Regions from separate parts of the Homo sapiens genome. Here all the other regions are linked to region 1. The links come from fine-mapping of genetic effects on gene expression. A gene starts in region 1. Each other region holds a variant in brackets. All regions are shown on one strand. Distances are from middle to middle.

What was found. PIP is the estimated chance that this variant, and not a neighbour inherited with it, causes the effect.
Region 2: its variant is fine-mapped to the expression of GADD45A in whole blood (TOPMed, PIP 0.94).
Region 3: its variant is fine-mapped to the expression of GADD45A in whole blood (TOPMed, PIP above 0.99).

Annotation. Positions count from the first base shown.
Region 1 is chr1:67,683,869-67,686,627 of GRCh38, forward strand. It overlaps GADD45A (growth arrest and DNA damage inducible alpha), which reads left to right and starts at 1,333. Exons shown (of 4, transcript NM_001924.4): 1 at 1,333-1,670; 2 at 2,157-2,258; 3 at 2,482-2,719. The coding sequence starts at 1,627. RefSeq lists silencers at 997-1,176, 1,187-1,246, 1,437-1,596, 2,067-2,196, 2,267-2,406 and enhancers at 2,304-2,759, 2,507-2,556, 2,587-2,759.
Region 2 is chr1:67,589,555-67,592,313 of GRCh38, forward strand. It overlaps LOC105378780 (a long non-coding RNA gene), which reads left to right. Exons shown (of 4, transcript XR_947474.4): 4 at 694-843. Among named protein-coding and RNA genes, the nearest start is that of LINC01702, 69 kb to the left of the region's middle. The variant A/G (reference allele first, on the strand shown) is at 1,077.
Region 3 is chr1:67,561,500-67,564,258 of GRCh38, forward strand. It overlaps LOC105378780 (a long non-coding RNA gene), which reads left to right and starts at 549. Exons shown (of 4, transcript XR_947474.4): 1 at 549-660. The variant GA/G (reference allele first, on the strand shown) is at 1,227.

The DNA.
Region 1 (2,759 bases):
GGTACCTTTGCAGAAATTACTTCTGTGACCTTTGGCTGTACAGCAACCTTAATAATGCAAGCACTGTTTTGAATGCAAGCATGTGGGAGCCATTTTCACCACTTTTGATGACTTCAGTAGGTTTAAGAAATGTTTTTGCTTTTATTGCATAAACCATAAAACAAAGGAAGGGACTTTTGAACTACTCAGTGAGAGTCTATATATTAAAGTTTGTTTTTCAAAAATGTGTAACTACCATTTGCAGTTTTAAAGGTCTGCTTTCCACCTACAAGTTGCCATTATCTCAAAGGTGAAATTTTAGCATATGACTAAAAACTTCCTATAGTTACAGCTTCATGATTCAGCATCTAACATCAATAATTCACAGTGAGATCATAGGAGGCTCTCTGTGGAAGGTAACGACATACATACGTTAGGAAAGGAAGCTTAGGGCATATCGAGAGCATTTTGAATTTAGACTTGTGGGCTGTGTGGGTGTCAGATGGTTGTCTCTCAGCTGGTGGGCGTCCAGAAGGATCCTTGTTTGGGCAAGGCTCTTTGAGAAAGGAGAATCTGGGTTGCCAGGGATTCCCACATGTGGTCACCAGCTCCCCACGCAGACCAGCTCACGATTTCCCAGTTACACCGGGCAGGTGGGAAACCGTTCTGCTTTCTGTGGAAAAGATTCTAACTTGGTTCCCTGCCATCCCTGAATACAAACGGGTTGGTTTTTCTTTTTTCAGCTTCCAACCCTTGCAGCTTTCCAAAAATAAATCAAACCAGCCATCAGGGCACCGAAATAATACTACTGCTAATAAGCAGCTTCGCCTAGACTTAGATAAACAACACTTCTGAGGTAAACTTTGCCCCGGAGGTCTGGAGACACTTTTTTAATGTAACCTGCTTACTAATAATTACTAGACTTCAGTGCATTAACCCTGGAAATAGATTTTAATAGCCACCCCTTAAAACAAAAGACATGAAAAGATAATAAGAAAAAAGTGCCGCAACTATTATAGAAAAACACTTGGCAGCCTGCTTCAGCCCAAGCTGAGGCCACCTCTAGCCTCTGCTAAAGCCCCCCACTCCCAATGGTCCCCGCCAACCGGATAAGAGTGCGCGCGGGACCCGCCTTCCCCTCTCGGCACCGCCCCCGCCCCCGCCCCCTCGGCTCGCCTCCCGCGTGGCTCCTCCCTTTTCCGCTCCTCTCAACCTGACTCCAGGAGCTGGGGTCAAATTGCTGGAGCAGGCTGATTTGCATAGCCCAATGGCCAAGCTGCATGCAAATGAGGCGGAAGGTGGTTGGCTGAGGGTTGGCAGGATAACCCCGGAGAGCGGGGCCCTTTGTCCTCCAGTGGCTGGTAGGCAGTGGCTGGGAGGCAGCGGCCCAATTAGTGTCGTGCGGCCCGTGGCGAGGCGAGGTCCGGGGAGCGAGCGAGCAAGCAAGGCGGGAGGGGTGGCCGGAGCTGCGGCGGCTGGCACAGGAGGAGGAGCCCGGGCGGGCGAGGGGCGGCCGGAGAGCGCCAGGGCCTGAGCTGCCGGAGCGGCGCCTGTGAGTGAGTGCAGAAAGCAGGCGCCCGCGCGCTAGCCGTGGCAGGAGCAGCCCGCACGCCGCGCTCTCTCCCTGGGCGACCTGCAGTTTGCAATATGACTTTGGAGGAATTCTCGGCTGGAGAGCAGAAGACCGAAAGGTGAGTCGGCCTGCGGACTCTTCCGGCCCGAACTTCTCTTACCTACCCCGCGCTCCCCGGTGCAGCCGGGCTGTGGAAGGCTTGCAGGGGAGGAAGCTAAAAAGTTTGCACAGGGCAACTCCCGCCCTTGCTCCCTCGGGACTCTCCGTGGAGCTCCCACGGACTGAAAGAGCGTGCCCCCCAACCCGAACGAGCCCCGCCGGGGCCTTTGCAAAGGGCAGCAGTGGCCGTCGCTGCCCGTGCGGCTCCCGTGGCTGGCAGCCTGTGGCAGGGGCACTCTCGGGACTTCTCACGGGACGCCCGGTCCTTGGGCGTGCAGGGGTCATGGGGGGTGACGGGGCCGCGGGAGCGCCGGGTTTTCGTAGAGCCCAGGTGCGCGGTGGTGCTTGCATTCGAGAGGGAGGGGCGTGGTACCGGACGAGGGGGGCGGCGATGGCCCCGAGGGCACCGGGGCTGACGGGACCCCTCGCCCTTGCCCGCGTGTAGGATGGATAAGGTGGGGGATGCCCTGGAGGAAGTGCTCAGCAAAGCCCTGAGTCAGCGCACGATCACTGTCGGGGTGTACGAAGCGGCCAAGCTGCTCAACGTGTAAGTGGGGCCCTTGCGCGTCCCCCATGGCACCCCTTCCCGCCCCAGCCCGGGAGGTCGCCTTGGCTGGGCGCCCCTCGCCCGGCCGCGCCACTTCCTGTCGCTTTTCTGCCTGTCTCGGAAGGGAGGGGGCGAGCGGGCCGGGCGGCGACCCCCAGGGACCCGGGCAGTGGTTGAGGGCGCCCGCGCTTCTGCGCTCACTGGCCCCGCCCGCTGCCCCCAGCGACCCCGATAACGTGGTGTTGTGCCTGCTGGCGGCGGACGAGGACGACGACAGAGATGTGGCTCTGCAGATCCACTTCACCCTGATCCAGGCGTTTTGCTGCGAGAACGACATCAACATCCTGCGCGTCAGCAACCCGGGCCGGCTGGCGGAGCTCCTGCTCTTGGAGACCGACGCTGGCCCCGCGGCGAGCGAGGGCGCCGAGCAGCCCCCGGACCTGCACTGCGTGCTGGTGACGGTAAGGGACTGGGGGACTGCAGCCTGCAGGGTAGAGCCCC
Region 2 (2,759 bases), 94 kb before region 1:
AAGAAAGAGGACAAAGGAGGGTTTTGTTTGTTTTGAGCCCATGGCACATGTTTAACCTACGATCTTTAATAGGAATTCTTAGCCTTATGTCAGAGATGAAGCAATTGAAGTTTAGGATTATTAAGCAGTTAGGAAGTTGTCGAGTTGGTCTAGTAGGATATGTCTTGGGTCAGAGCTTCCGTCACACTGTTTTCTTATCTATCTTCTCTGTTGAGCCATGAGCTCTCTTAAGGCAAGGACCAATCCTATCTGTTCCCTTTTGTATCTCTAGTAGCAGGCTGTCCTAGGCGCTCAACTAAGGTTTCTTGAGTGAATGTGTTGGGTCTGATTTTGGAGGACATTGTTTGTTCCATCCTAACGGAATAAAAATCCCAACATTTTGTTTTTAACCTGCCAAGCCCAAATTATCTGTACCTGCTGTAATTATCTCCCACTGCCCCAGGCGCCCCCTCCCCCACAGTTTTGTGCTTGTTGTCATCTTAGAAGACAGATAGACATCTGCCTGCACCTGAAATGGCTCAAAAAATTTCCTTGGGAAGGTCTCGCCTTCATTCTTAAACCACAACATACACTTCCAATGTTTATTTTTGTGAGACACACAATAGTATAATCACAAAATATTTTTTCCCTAAAGAACAACTTACTCAAGTGAAGGCAATGCTATATTTATGACTTTTTTTTTCCTGTTTTTAGGATACCTCATGGAAACTTGACAGAACAAAGGATTTATTTTTTATTAGGTTAAATCTGCTTCTTGGGTACTGTTTGCTTGCTGCCCATTAAGTCTGGACATCTCAATTTGAAAAAAAGGCACTTGGATTAATAAAAACAACCTGAAACAGATCCCTTTAGTGGGGTGACTCTGTATTATGTTAAAACGTAATGTGACAAACACGGCTGCAGCGCCCTCCCAGAACCCAAACCTTCCAAGCTAAAAATAGCCCTTGGTCTTTCCCTGCAACTCAAAAACAGGAACAGCATAACTTGTTTGCCTCATTATGTGTTCTGCCCAGGGATCCAGCCCTCTCACATCCTGGCTCTTGCATACTTTCACAAATTCTAATCTGCCCATTACA[A/G]ATCCAACAGGCCTCATGGTAGGAAGTGAATTCTGCACAAACACAACTGCCCTAGGTCCTTAAACAATGCACTGTTCACCCAGGGGCTCACAGGAGGGAATAATAACTTTAACCACCACTTAGGGGAGGCATCTCTTAATATTTTTCTGGTTCTATGGGCATGAAGATAGGCACGCTATGTGTTTTAACCTTTTCCATCCTTACCATCTATGAGGGTAAATCTTATTATTATCCCTATTTTATAGATAAAGGAAATGAAGGCTCAGGAGATAAAAGAACTTGCCCACACTCACCCAAGACAGTGTAGGAGTGGTGGCCAAACCCAGCTGGCTTTCACATTAATGAGCATCACAGCAAACTACCTCACCATAATGCCATGGCCAAGTGAGTGGGACCTCCACTCAGAAGTGAAGGGAGATGGGCTGGGCATGGTGGCTCACACCTGTAATCCCAGCACTTTGGAAGGCAGAGGCGGGTGGACCACCTGAAGTCAGGAGTTTGAGATCAGCCTGGTCAACATGGCGAAACCCCATCTCTACTAAAAATACAAAAGTTAGCCAGGCATGGTGGCGCACGCCTGTTGTCTCAGCTACTCGAGAGGCTGAGGCAGGAGAATTGCTTGAACCCGGGAGGCGGAGGTTCAAGCCTCTGCTATCAAGCCTGAGCCGAAATCCCACTATTGCACTCCAGCCTGGTGATGGAGCGACACTCCGTCTCAAAAAAAAAAAAAAAAAAAAAAAAGTAGAGGAAGATGAAGGAATGTCTAACTCTAACTACTATTGGCCCATGAGAATAAAGGCAGAAGCTATAGATGCTCAGAGTTGGGAGGGATTATGTAGATCATCTATCCTTGGGTATCTTTTTTTCTGCAGCAGATCTGACAAGTTCCCACACAATTCCACGGGAAAATCATCGGCTTTGGATTCTTGACCCTCTGTGGAGGGAGAGGGAGGGCAAGTGGAAGTGGAGTGAATCAGTAGAAAGGAAAACAGTGCTGCAGGACAGAGAGGAGACTCTTAGAGAAGTGCTCTCCAGGGGAAGGCAAGATGGGAGAAACGAGCTGGCCTGAGAGGGGAACAGGGATGTGCCCTCTGTAGAAACAGGAGGAAAGGCCCAGCATGTGGGCACAGGCCAGTTAAGTTGGAAGTTTTGTTACTAAGAAGATGAGGTGGTTTCTAGGTGGTTGTTTCTCTTTTTCTCAGTGAACTGCAGGTGAAGGCCATCAGCTGCAAGTGAGGAAAGGAGAGAAGATACAGGAAGTTTGAGAAGACAGAGGGTGTGAAGAGTTTTGGAAGTGGAGATACTGAGAAAGTGTTTGTCCATCAGTGGCTTGAGATTTGTGTCCATATATGTCAAAGGAATCCCATCATCATGATCAGTGGATTCTGCAAAAACATGCAGCTGCTTGGGTGCAAGCATGATAGCTGGAAAGCTGGAGCTTGACATGTGAGGTTGTTGGACAGAGTTTGCAGGGCAGTGGTTGTAAGAAAGAATCATGACTCTAAGCTGGGTTGAGAGTGAGGTGTCTGATGAAAAAGTGGTAGCGCTAATAATAATCAAAGATCTCTATGAGATCTGCATACATATTGCACTGGAGGACCAGCAAAAGTGAGCTGGGAGTAGAGGCTGGTATACTTGAGGTTGCAATTTCAGTGGTGGTGCATTTAGTGTGGCTTGCAATAT
Region 3 (2,759 bases), 120 kb before region 1:
GACTTGAAGACTTCATAGCTTATCCTATGAACCTCAGTGTCAAGAACCACAGATGGCAACTATGATAGGCCATTTTGTTTCAAAAGGTCAATTATGAAGCTGTAGACTTTTTCAATTATATGAATATGTTTTCTGGGTTCTGCTACGGCCCAGACAGTGTTAACTTCTTTTTCTATTGTGGATTTTGATGTTTTCCTCCCAAGATATTAGTTTTATTATATGTCCCCAAGCCTTAAGTTTCTCCATAAAGGAAAAAAAATCTCCAGGGAAAAAAAATCAGCCTCTTAGCAGGTACTGGTGGTCATAAAACACCCAGACAACACCAGACGGTGGCGCCAGAGAGGCAGGCAGGTGGCAGGAGGGCTGCACGGAGTTGGAGGCTCCTGAGTCTTCTGTTTCATTTGCTGGCAGCTTCTGTGTGCCTCAGGTGCCAGCGGCCTGGCTACTCTTGTTTCTCACAGTGTGCTGAAGTATCATGGGGTTTGTCCCTAGCAGGTCACCCAGAGTCCAACAGGAAGTGAGAGCAGCTCCTTCCTGCTGCAGTAAGAGATGAACATTCCCTTTGGAGAGACACACTAGGTCACTACAAATGGGCCACTGAAGAACCTGGCACTGGCCGCTATCACTGGCCCCAGCTGCAGTGCTGCTTGCTGTTCACAGGTTTGTCTCTTTCTGTATTATTTATAGCAAACATGGAGGGTTCACACTGGCCTAGGCAGCATCCAAGTGCTTTTACATGTGACAACGCAGAACTTTCTAACATGGCATACCAGGACTGCAGGTGACATATGTGCCTCAATTTTTCATCACCTTACCACTGGCTATGAGTAGATTCATCCATTTATGCCACTATCATTTGTTTTGTGAATTATGTTAATACCTAATGCAAATACTATTTTCTGGTCAAGTGCGGTGCCTCACACCTGTAATCCCAGCATTTTGGGAAGCTGAGGTGGGCAGATTGCCTGAGGCTAGGAGTCTGAGACCAGCCTGGCCACATAGTGAAACTCTGTCTCTACTAAAAATACAAAAAGGTGGGACACGCCTGTAATCCCGGCTGCTCGGGAGGCTGAGGCTCGAAAATCGCTTGAACCTGAGAGGCGGAGGTTGCAGTGAGCTGAGATGGTGCCACTGCCCTTCAGCCTGGGTGACAGAGCAAGACTCTGTCTCAAAAAACAAACAAACAAACAAAAAATACCATGTATTTTCTCTGGATGCCATGGCAT[GA/G]AAAGTTGGGAAACACTGCCGTGAATGAATCTTCACACAACTTATGGGGTAGTTCTTCCTAATACCTCCTTTTTACATATGAGAAAATAGAGGCTCCGAGGGGTTGCTTGACTGGACCAAGGTCACAGAGCTAATAAGCAGTCGAGCCAGGACTGGAACCCAGATGGCCTATGTCTAGAGTTTCCATGCTCGTGTCCCTAGACCAAAAGCTCTCAACCCTAGCTATATATTAGAATCTGAGGAACTCAAACAAACAAACAAACAAACCCAAAGCCAAGAAATTGTCACAGCCAAGAGAAGCCTAAGGAGACCTGACGACTAAATGTAATGTGGACCCTGAATGGGACCCTGGAAAAGAAGAAAGACATTAAAAGAAAAACAAAGAATTCTAAATAAAACATAGACTTCAGTTAATAAAAATATATCAATATTGATCCATTAAATGTAACAAATGTACCACACTGATGTAAGATGTTAACAATAAGAGAAATGGCGGGGTGGAGTATACAGGAATTATATACTCTGTACTATCTTTGTAATAATTCTGTAAATCTCAAGGTCATCTAAGTAAAAAGTTTATTCTTAAAAAAAAAACAAGCAGAAAAATATCTGAGGGTCCTATCTCATAACAATTAAATCAGAATCACTGGAGTGAGATTCAGGTATCAGCATTTTTTAAAAAGCTCCCCAGGAGATTAAAATGTTCATCCGGGGCCAGGTGTGGTGGCTCATGCATGTAATCCCAGCACTTTGGGAGGCCTAGTCGGGCGGATCACCTGAGATCAGGAGTTCGAGACCAGCCTGGACAAGACGGTGAAACTCCGTCTCTACTGAAAATACAAAAATTGGCCAGGCGTGGTGGTGGGTGCCTGTAATCCCAGATATTCAGGAGGCTGAGGCAGGAGAATCACTGGAACCTGGGAAGAGGAGGTTGCAGTGAGCCGAGATCACACCATTGCACTCCAGCCTAGATGACAAGAGTGAGACTCCATCTCCCCTACCCCACACAAAAAATGTTCATCCAAGATGGAGAACCCCTGCACTGCCTCCCTGACATAGACCCTAAGCACTTTGAGTTCAGGGAGTTTGCTTATTCATTTTCATACCCCAAGCACCTAGCAGAGTGCCTGATACAGGTAAGGCACTCAGTATACATTTGATGAATAAGTGACTGACTCACTGAATGAATGAATGAATGAATATTTCAGCCTCTCATCAATTCAAACCTGACTTAATCAACTCTGAAGAGAAGAGATTACATGAAAACATGTAACGTCAGGCAGCAAGCCTATCGTGTCTATCACTGGGTACTGATTATTGTGTGCTAGCTGCTAGGTGCTGGCCATGGCTAGGAGTAGGTTAGGAGGTGATGCCTGTCCTCAAGGCATATTCTGTAAGGGGAGGTTAGGCCTTGTGGGGCAGGGAGTAAGCAGGCAGGGTGTGGAATCAAATGGTCTAGGTTCAAACCCCTGTTCCTGCATTTAGTAGCTGTGTGGTCCTGGGTGGTTTTCTAACCACACTGGAAACTATGG